Linked DNA regions of Homo sapiens: region 2 is linked to region 1. Evidence: fine-mapped expression QTL. A gene starts in region 1. The other region holds a variant in brackets. All regions are shown on one strand. Distances are from middle to middle. Region 1 holds the start of AARS1 (alanyl-tRNA synthetase 1). Region 2 overlaps SF3B3 (splicing factor 3b subunit 3).

The links. PIP is the estimated chance that this variant, and not a neighbour inherited with it, causes the effect. A credible set is the group of variants that fine-mapping cannot tell apart.
Region 2: its variant is the best candidate, but not a certain one, in a credible set for the expression of AARS1 in blood mononuclear cells (TOPMed, PIP 0.59).

Annotation. Positions count from the first base shown.
Region 1 is chr16:70,287,193-70,292,566 of GRCh38, forward strand. It overlaps AARS1 (alanyl-tRNA synthetase 1), which reads right to left and starts at 2,314. Exons shown (of 21, transcript NM_001605.3): 1 at 2,229-2,314. It also overlaps a transcript of DDX19B not described here. RefSeq lists a silencer at 1,530-1,659.
Region 2 is chr16:70,566,487-70,571,860 of GRCh38, forward strand. It overlaps SF3B3 (splicing factor 3b subunit 3), which reads left to right. Exons shown (of 26, transcript NM_012426.5): 21 at 925-1,050; 22 at 1,797-2,009; 23 at 2,557-2,655; 24 at 3,520-3,663; 25 at 4,609-4,713; 26 at 5,187-5,374. The coding sequence ends at 5,327. Among named protein-coding and RNA genes, the nearest start is that of SNORD111, 31 kb to the left of the region's middle. The variant G/A (reference allele first, on the strand shown) is at 3,124.

The sequences.
Region 1 (5,374 bases):
TGCAGTGAGCCGAGATCGCGCCACTGCACTCCAGCCTGGGCGACAGAGCGAGACTCCGTCTCAAAAAAAAAAAAAAAAAAAAAAAATTAGCTGGGCATGGTAGCGGGCGCCTGTAATCCCAGCTACTTGGGAGGCTGAGTCAGGAGAATTGCTTGAACCTGGGAGGCGGTGGCTGCAGCGAGCCGAGATCATGCCATTGCACTCCAGCCTGGGTGACAAAGCGAGACCTGTTTCAACTTTTTTTTTGAGGCAGGTCTCGCTCTGTCACCCAGGCTTTACACACAGGTCTCGCTCTGTCACTTTGGGAGGCTGAAACAGGAGGATTGCTTGAGGCCAGGAATTCAAGACCAGCCTGGGCAACATGGGAACACCTGAGCCTGGGAGGTCAATTTTTTTTTTAATTGGCCAGGTGTGGTGGTGTGCACCTGCAGACCCAGCTACTCGGGAGGCTGAGTCCAAAGGGTCGCTTGAGCACATAAGTTTGAGGCTGCAGTGAGCTATGGTCACACCAAAACATTCCAGCCTAGGTAACAGGGTGAGACCCTGACTCAAACAACAACAAACGTAAAGACACTTTTTCTTTTTTTTGAGACGGTGTTTCGCTCTTGTAGCCCAGGCTGGAGTGCAATGGTGCGCAACCTCGGCTCACCGCAATCTCCACCTCCCGGCTTCAAGCGATTCTCCTGCCTCAGCCTCCTGAGTAGCTGGGAATACAGGCATGTGCCACCACACCTAGCTAATTTTGTATTTTTAGTAGAGACGGGGTTTCTCCATGTTGGTCAGGCTGGTCTCGACCTCCTGACCTCAGGCGATCTGCCCGCCTCGGCCTCCCAAAGTGCTGGGATTACAGGGGTGAGCTACCGCGCCCGGCCAAGACACTTATTTAAGACAGCCTTCCCCTTCTTCTTTTTTTTTTTTTTTTTTTTTTGAGACGGAGTCTCGCTCTGTTGCGCAGGCTGGAGTGCAGTGGCGCGATCTCAGCTCACTGCAAGCTCCGCCTCCCGGGTTCACGCCATTCTCCTGCCTCAGCCTCCCGAGTAGCTGGGACTACTGGGACTACGGGCGCCAGTCACCACGCCCGGCTATTTTTGTATATTTGGTAGAGATGGGGTTTCACCGTGTTAGCCAGGATGGTCTCAATCTCCTGACCTCGTGATCTGCCCACCTCGGCCTCCCCAAGTGCTGGGATTACAGGCGTGAGCCACCGCGCCCGGCCGCCTTCCCCTTCTTGATAAGGCTCCCCCTCTTTTACTGTCTCACAGCCTCAAGTGTTTCCCTTCATAATTTCCATACGCGCTTCATGGATTGTTTAATGTGCGCCTCCCCCATCAGGCTGTCAGTTCCATCCCAGCAGCAACGACTGTTCTGGGCTCTTTTTTTTTTTTTTTTTTTGAAACGGAGTCTCCCTCTGTCACCCAGGCTGGAGTGCAATGGTGTGATCTCAGCTCACTGCAACCTCCGCCTGCCGGGTTCAAGCGATTCTCATGCCTCAGCCTCCGGAGTGGCTGAGAGTACAGGCGCGCGCCGCCACGCTCGGCTAATTTTTGTATTTTTAGTAAAGACGGGGTTTCACCATGTTGGCCAGGCTAGTCTCGAACCCCTGACCTCAGGTGATCCGCCCGCCTCGACCTCCCAAAGCGCTGGGATTACAGGCGTGAGCCTCCGCGCCTGGCCCTGGGCTATTACAGCACATCCTCAGCATCTAGTACAGTGGCTGCTAAATACGTATTTCGTGATCAGGTATACTAATCCTTTAACACCAAGTTCGGAATTAACTCACATGCTTCAAAGCACACCGAGAAATACAAACTGTTTTACAGAACAGCTTAAGATGACGGTCTCGGTGCGCCTGGACCGGCATCAGCTGTTTAGTTAATTTTAAGAAATCAAGGAATGGCTGGCTTACAGCAGGATTGCACCCAGCTGGCCCATCCTTCCTCCCGTGCCCCCACCCGCCCCTAGGGGATTAAAACCAAGGGAGCTAAAACCCCAGGTTGGCAACCGTGAGGTATTGGTGCTCAGCAAATCCACCCGAGGCCGCGACACTCGCAGCGCTCCCGGGGGCGAACGCAAGGCCACACTGTCCAGCTCCCGCTCCAGCCCAGACTGGGCTTCTCCAGGCCACGCGGGGCCTGATCCTGGGGCCCACTGCGGCTGCGGAGCTTTCCCCCCAGTCTGCGGGCCCAGCCGCTCTCCTAGCACCGCAGAGCTCTCCGAGGGCGGCCTACCTCTCCTAGGGTCGCCGTCCCCAGCTCCTCCCTCAGAGTCCCCCGCCAAGGGCCCGCTGCACCTATTCCCGCAGACGCGCAGCTGTACCGGCCTCAGACCACGACCTACCACAACCCGCCACGCTCCGTCCAATCAGAGCGCGCCGACGGAAAGTGCCCCGCCGCGCCTTACCTCATGAGATATTATTGGTCAACCAACATGCCAGTCAAACTGAGGACGAATCCGTTCATTAGTGGATTCCTGGGAAGGCGGCTCTAACTTGGCTGATGCAACTGCGAGAAAAGGTGGGATGGGGTGCGTCACATGATCGAGTTAGACCCCCCCCCGCCCCCCCCGCCCCCCCCCGCCCCCGGCTCCCGGAGGTCGACATTTTGGTTTCCATAGGCAAAGTCCTAACACCACAATTGACATAGTTAAAAAGGGGAGACGGTAACGTGTTTGGTAGAGGTTACATATCTTGCTATAGTTGTTTATTTTAGTTGCTGAGTGATACACAGCCCTCAAAGAGTCTGACATTGTGCCCATGGTTACACTTGTCCGGGGGAGACCTTGAATTTGGTGTGGAAGAAATAACATCAGTAGTTCAGGTACGATTGGATCAGCATCTGGTCCTCGATTTGCCTTTGGAAAAAAAAAAGTTAATATTTATAGGCCTGGGGGAGGAGGGTGAATATATATATATACATATACATATATACATGCCAGGTGCGGTGGCTCACGCCTATAATTGCAACACTTTGGGAGGCCAAGGTGGGAAGATCACCTGAACCCAGGAGTTGGAGACCAGCCTGGTCAACATAACTAGACCCTGTCTCTACGAAAAATTTTTTAAAAGGCCGGGCGCGGTGGCCCACACCTGTAATCCTAGCACTTTGGGAGGCTGAGGCCAACGGATGACGAGGTCAGGAGACCGAGAGCATCCTGGCCAACATGGTGAAACCCCGTCTCTACTAAAAACACAAAATTAGCCGGGCGCGCATCTGTAGTCCCAGCCACTCGGGAGGCTGAGGCAAGGGAATCCCTTGACCTCGGGAGGCGGAAGTTGCGGTGAGCCGAGATGGCGCCACTGCACTCCAGCCTGGCTACGGAGCAAGACTCCGTCTCAAAAAAAAAAATAAAAAATAAAAATTAGCCAGGCATAGTGGCGCATGCTTGTAGTCCCAGCTACTTGGGAGGTTGAAGTGGGAGGATCACTTGAGCCTAGGAAGTTGAGGCTGCAGTGAGCCCTGATCGTGACACTGCATTCCTTGGGCGACAGAGCGAGGCCCTGTCTGAAAAATATGTATGTATTTATACGTGAGGCATTGCATCAAACATTTCACATGCTTATTTCATTTGATTTTTAAACTGTGTATGAGGTCAGCTGGAGTCCCCTTTTTACAAATGAGGAAATTACCTTGCACAAGTTCACACCCAATAGTAAGTTGTGGAGACAGGATCCAAACCTGTGTCTATTTAACTCCAAAGCCCATGCTCTTAACCACTGCACTATTACCTCCATCATCTGATATATCCAAATACACGGGTAATAAATTGTGCTGCTGGTCATAACTCAAGTTACAGACAATACAGAAAAATACTACTTTTTATGCAAAAAGAGCATCCTACACAAAAAGAAGGTCAAGCCCAAAAGCCAGTAAAAACATAAATCATTTGATTTACTTTCCCACTTCATAGCTGCTCACAAATAGTAATCATCAAACCTACCATTTATTGAGCACTTAGTATACAGCAGGCACCAATCTAAGCTTTTAATCCTCACAACCTTATCATGAGTTACTACTACTATCTGCTTTTAACAGAGTAAAATAAGGCAGAGAGAGAGGTTAAGTAACACAGCTGAGGGCAAAACCAGGAGACACAAGTGTTTATTCTGATCCACAGTGCCCTAAATAACATATATTTAGCTTAAACAATCTGGGAAATGAGTCAGACTTCTAAGCCACCACACTTAAAATAGAAAGCCAAAAGGTATGTATGAATTGTACTTTCAGAATAAAATAATACAGGTTGTAATCTCAATAATTTAGTTCTGCTGCCAGAGTTGTTACTAGGATAGTACCTTCATTAATAAAATAATTATAAACAGATTAAAATAATTTTTTGGCCTAGCGTGGTGACTCATGCCTGTAATCCCAGCACTTTTGGGAGGCCTAGGCAGGCAGATCATGAGGTCAGGAGATTGAGACCATCCTGGCTAACACGACGAAACCCCGTCTCTACTAAAAAATACAAAAAAAGTAGCCGGGCGTGGTGGCGGGCGCCTGTAGTCCCAGCTACTCTGGAGGCTGAGGCAGGAGAATGGCGTGAACCCGGGAGGCGGAGCTAGCAGTGAGCCGAGATCAGGCCACTGCACTCCAGCCTGGGCCGCAGAGCGAGACTTTGTCTCAAAATAAATAAATAAATAAATAAGAATTTTTTATTCACCCATTAAGAGAGATTGTAGGCCAGCACAGAGACTCACACCTGTAATCCCAACACTTTGGGAGGCCAAGGCAGGAGGATCAATGGAGCCCAAGTGTTTGAAACCAGCCTAGGCAACATAGTGAGACTCTGTTAAAAAAAAAAAATTCTTTTTAATTAGCTAGGCGTGGTGGCATTCGCCTGTAGTCCCAGCTGCTCAAGAGGCTGAGGAAGGAGAATCACTTGGAGCCCAGAAGCTGAAGGCTTCAGTGAGCTGAGATCTCGCGACTGCACTCCAGCCTGGGCAACAAAGCAAGACCCTTGTCTCTCTCTCTTTTTTTTTCCTTTTTTTGAGGCAGAGTTTCACTCTTGTTGCCCAGGCTGGAGTGCAATGGCATGATCTCGGCTCATGTCAACATCTGCCTCCTGGCTCAGCCTCCCGAGTAGCTGAGATTACAGGCGCCACCACCACGCCCAGTTATTTTTTTTTCTTCTATTTCTAGTAGAGATGAGGGTTTCGCCATGTTGGCCAGGCTGGTCTTGAACTCCCGACCTCAGGTGATTCGCCTGCCTTGGCCTCCCAAAGTGTTGGGATTTCAGGCGTGAGCCATCGCGTCCGGCCCCCTTGTCTCTTAAAACAAAAAAAAGAAAGAAATTGTAATTGAGGCCCAAAAGTCTCATTCTAATATAATTATCTAATGATATTTTTCTGTGATATTTTTCTCTTGTAGATGTCAACTAC
Region 2 (5,374 bases), 280 kb after region 1:
AGGAGGCAGAGGTTGCAGTGAGCCGAGATTGCGCCACTGCACTCCAGCGTGGGTGACAGAGCGAGACTCTGTCTCAAAAAAAAGAAAAGGATTAAGATGGTAAACTTTATGTTATGACTATTTTACCATAATTTTTAAAATAAAAAGAATATTCTCTTCTCCACAATGACAGCATGTGGATTCCTTCAACCCTACCATAAGGGGAGTATCCTCTAAGAAATACTTCATAGACCCTTTTGCATATTAAATTTGTCTCTCCTTTACAACTGAGATGTCACTAGGCTGGGTGCAGTGGCTCACGCTTGTAATCCCAGCATTTTGGGAGTCTGAGTCGAGCAGGTCACTTGAGCCCAAGAGTTTGAGACCAGCCTGGGCAATGTGGTGAAACTCAGTTTCTACGAAAAATACAGATAATTAGTCAGGCTTGATGGCACATGCCTGTAGTCCCAGCTACTCGGGAGTCTGAGGTGGGAGGATCACCTGAGCCCAGGAAGTCCAGGCTATAGTGAGCCATGATTGCGCCTGCCACAGCCCTTCAGCCTGAGCAGTAGTGAGACCCTGTCTCAAAAAAAAAAAAAAAAGTCACTTTTCACTAGCATTTCTTTCCTGTCCCTCCACAAATTACAGTCACTTGGCTACTAAGGCTTCACTGTTGAAATAACACCAGTTAAACAGAGCACAAGCTCTGGACAGCAGTCGTCTGGTACCAGAACTTCTTGTCAGTTACAGCATTGATCCCTCTACTGAGTGAATGCAGCATGCGGAACTTGTTCACCCCAACACCCAGATTCATTAGCAAAATAAGCTCACTGGTGTGTTTCTTAATGATAGGCTCCTGTGGAAGTAGGCATTTCTGGGCAGAGAGGTGAGGCCTGTGTCTGGCTGGCATTTATAATAGCTGTATTACCTGCTTTTCCTCTATAGACTCCTGTGGAAGAGGTCCCTGCTGCTATTGCCCCATTCCAGGGGAGGGTGTTGATTGGTGTGGGGAAGCTGTTGCGTGTCTATGACCTGGGAAAGAAGAAGTTACTCCGAAAATGTGAGAATAAGGTAAGTGTGCTGGCATTGGTGCTGAGATCTAGCTCATGTGTCAAGGGTGGGGGCATTGGTGGGGTGGTGGGCATTGAGTTTTAAAATCTTATCTTTATTAGGACTTGTTGTGTTACCCCAATTCCAGCTTCAGAATTATGCCCTTGTTTTTTTGTTTTTTGGTTTTTGAGACGGAGTCTCGCCCTGTTGCCCAGGCTGGAGTGCAGTGGCGCAATCTCGGCTCACTGCAACCTCCGCCTCCTGGGTTCAAGCGATTCTCCTGCCTCAGCCTCCCAAGTAGCTGGGATTACAGATGCGCGCCACCACGCCTGGCAAATTTTTTGTATCTTTAGTAGAGACAGGGTTTTACCATGTTGGCCAGGCTAGTCTCTTAACTCCTGATCTCATGATCTACCCGCCTTAGCCTCCCAAAGTCCTGGGTTTACAGGCGTGAGCCACCGCACCGGCCCTTGAGTTTTGAGAGGAGCAGGAGTAGAGGGATCTCATTTCTTGACTTACCAAACAAGAACCAGCTTTCTATCTTGCTAGCTTCTATAAGGAAAGTAAATGTGAGAGTTAGGCATATATTTGCACTATATTAAAAGCTATTTGGCTCTTTTTTCCCACCTAGAATTCATTGCTAACTGCTGGTTTTTGGTATTTGCTGTTCTGCTGACCCTACGTATGTCATACGGAAAGCTGGGCTTTCTTTGGGTTCTGAACCCCAAGATTACACCCACCATCACTATTGTCTTTGTTTTTCCCAGCATATTGCCAATTATATCTCTGGGATCCAGACTATCGGACATAGGGTAATTGTATCTGATGTCCAAGAAAGTTTCATCTGGGTTCGCTACAAGCGTAATGAAAACCAGCTTATCATCTTTGCTGATGATACCTACCCCCGATGGGTCACTACAGCCAGCCTCCTGGACTATGACACTGTGGCTGGGGCAGACAAGTTTGGCAACATATGTGTGGTGAGTTGATGTTGTTAACTTGGGTTACAGTGATGTGTAGGAAAGCTGGCTCAGTTTCTTGTGGGTAAAGCCAAGGAGGAATCAAATCTGAGAAGTAAAAATGGATATAAAATTCCATCCTACTAAAGCTAACTCTACAAGCAATCTGTTCTTTAAGCCTTCTTACTAGTCTTTTGGATTTTTCTCTGTGGTTTATCTCCCTCCTCCCTATTGAACGTGATTTAATGATAGGTTTAGTTTGAGCTAATGGCTAATATTTCTTTTTACATTTTATAAGAACTTTGGAATGTCTGTTATCTATGTTGTGTGGTTTTGGTTTTACCCTTAGCTGTGTTAAACTCTTGCTCATGGGTCGATTCTTTTGAGTTTCTTGCTCCTCAGACACAGCTCCTGCCCACCAGAGCAGGTGCAGGACACGTGGGCTCAGGCCTCTGTCTAGGCAGTGCCCCTGTGGCTGACTTGCAAAGACCTGGCCAGACCTGTTGCTTGGTGACTCAGGTGAGCAGGTCCGGGCCCCAGCAGTGTGACTTGTGTCACTTCCTTGTAGGTGAGGCTCCCACCTAACACCAATGATGAAGTAGATGAGGATCCTACAGGAAACAAAGCCCTGTGGGACCGTGGCTTGCTCAATGGGGCCTCCCAGAAGGTAAGATTGCAGAATGGGCCCCAGGGAGAACACTGCTTAGCACTTTTCCTGTTGCCCTCACTGAAGAAATTGCCTTTGGTGAATTATTCATAGTGCACACGACTGTGCTGAGTGCTGTCCGTCCACAGTCCTTTCTTACCAATCTGCAAAAAATCTCCTTGGAGAGTAGCGAGTTTCTTAGAGAGAGTCCATTCCCAGTCCTCTGCTCTGAGGTGTGTCCTGGGCTTTACTTTCTCCTGTAGGCATGTGCTGCTTTAATAGAGCATCTCTGGACTTTCGGGCAAATCTATTTTAGAAGACAAGCCTAGTGATTGCTGTTTTCTATAATTTTCTTTGTGTTTTCCTTTTTTATGGCAAGCTTGATAAATTTAACAAAATGATTCTTATCGTAAGAAATGATGAACAGTAACTTTAGCATGTTTTATGAGGCATTAAGCTTTAAGTAAATGTGAGAATTTTAAAATATTT[G/A]TAGGGTTTAATAATTTTTGGATTTATTGTTTGTTTTTGAGACAAGGTCTCACTCAGTCGCCCGGGCTGGAGTGTGGTGGTACAATCACAGATCACTGCAGCTTCCACCTCCTGGGCTCAAGTGATCCTTCCCACTCAGCCTCCTGAGTAGCTGAGACTATAGTACATGCCACCAAACCTGGCAGATTTTGTGGGTATGGGTATACGAGACCTCACTGTGTTGCCCAGGCTGGTCTTGAAATCCTGGGCTCAAGCAATCCTCCCACGTTGGCCTCTATAATAATTTTTGGATGTTAATAGATGATGAAATGTGCCTTAGGGAGCACTGCTTGCCCTTGGGAGTCCAGGGAGGCTCCTGAGGGTGCACACAGTCACTAGTCTGTTTGTGACTCACAGGCAGAGGTGATCATGAACTACCATGTCGGGGAGACGGTGCTGTCCTTGCAGAAGACCACGCTGATCCCTGGAGGCTCAGAATCACTTGTCTATACCACCTTGTCTGGAGGAATTGGCATCCTTGTGCCATTCACGTCCCATGAGGTGAGAGCGCCCACATTACTCTGGCCTTGACTTTTAAGGTTGTTTCTTGGTGCTGGATCTACCTAAGAGGTCAAATTCATTTGTCCCCACATATAATTAATAATGTTCTGGGAATTATAAAGTGACAGAAGTACTTGGGGAGATAGGAATCTTGATTCTCCCGCACCCAGGGAAGGCCATTTGGTTTTTTTTTTTTTTTTTGCGACGGAGTCTCACTGTTACCCGGGCTGGAGTGCAGTGGCGCAATCTCAGCTCATTGCAAACTCCACCTCCCAGGTTCACGCCATTCTCCTGCCTCAGCCTCCCAAGTAGCTGGGAATACAGGCGCCCGCCACCATGCCCGGCTAATTTTTTGTATTTTTAATAGAGATGGGGTTTCACCGTGTTAGCCAGGGTGGTCTCGATCTCTTGACCTTGTGATCCGCCTGCCTCAGCCTCCCAAAGTGCTGGGATTACAGGCGTGAGCCACCCGCGCCCGGCCAGGCCGTTTGTTTTTATAGTGTCCCAGGGTTTGCTTCAGTCTGATGCGAGTTTACAAGGTTAGCCTGAGCCCAGAGCTTTAGAACTGGACTCCACAGACTAGGATTGCCAGGATTGATGGGATGATCCCTCCTGGGGCACACACTGCCATATGGAATCAACTCTAGGTTTGCCAGAGTTTGGCATGTTTTATTCCAGCCAAGGAAGCTGGGATCAGGAATCTGACCTCACAAACCATTCTTTATGTGTGGCATTCTCTCTTGCACTGCAGACAACATGTGGTCTCCTTTTGGGGTTTAACTATCGTGTTGTAGCAGAAAAACCTGTGATTATCAGAAAGTGATTAGATATTTCCCGTGTGTTTGTGTAGTAAAAATGAATGGCTTGTCTGTTCGTTGTGCTTGTGGAAACTCTAGACTAGTTGAAATCACTTCTCAGTGACAGATTTTTTGTTTCTTCTGCCAGGACCATGACTTCTTCCAGCATGTGGAAATGCACCTGCGGTCTGAACATCCCCCTCTCTGTGGGCGGGACCACCTCAGCTTTCGCTCCTACTACTTCCCTGTGAAGGTAGGTTGGGGGAATCTGAGCTGAAAAGGGAGATCTGAGAAAGGAGCAGCACAGGGAGTGGATTGATGGGAATAGTACCAGGGAGGGTGCTCCCCTCAGGGCAGACCACAGCCAGAGCAAAGGCTTCACCTGCTTCTGCCAATCTGAACTCTGAGTACCAAGAGTCAACTTAAGATAGTGTTCCTGGATCTACAAGTGGGGTTCAAGTATCGAGTGGAGAATAAAAAGTTTTCCCGGTCTGGGCGTGGTGGCACACATTTGTGGTCCCAGCCAATCGGGAGGCTGAGCCCCAGATTTTGAGAGTGCAGTGAGCTAAGATTATCCCACTGCACTGCAACCCGGATGATAGGGTGAGACCCTGTCTCAAAAACTAAAAAATAAAAACAGCTTTCCCTACAAGTGCTGCTTTAGCATGTGCCATTTTCTTTGGGCATCTCACCATTTTTTTTCTTTCTGCTTTCTCCATATCTTAGAATGTGATTGATGGAGACCTCTGTGAGCAGTTCAATTCCATGGAACCCAACAAACAAAAGAACGTCTCTGAAGAACTGGACCGAACCCCACCCGAAGTGTCCAAGAAACTCGAGGATATCCGGACCCGCTACGCCTTCTGAGCCCTCCTTTCCCGGTGGGGCTTGCCAGAGACTGTGTGTTTTGTTTC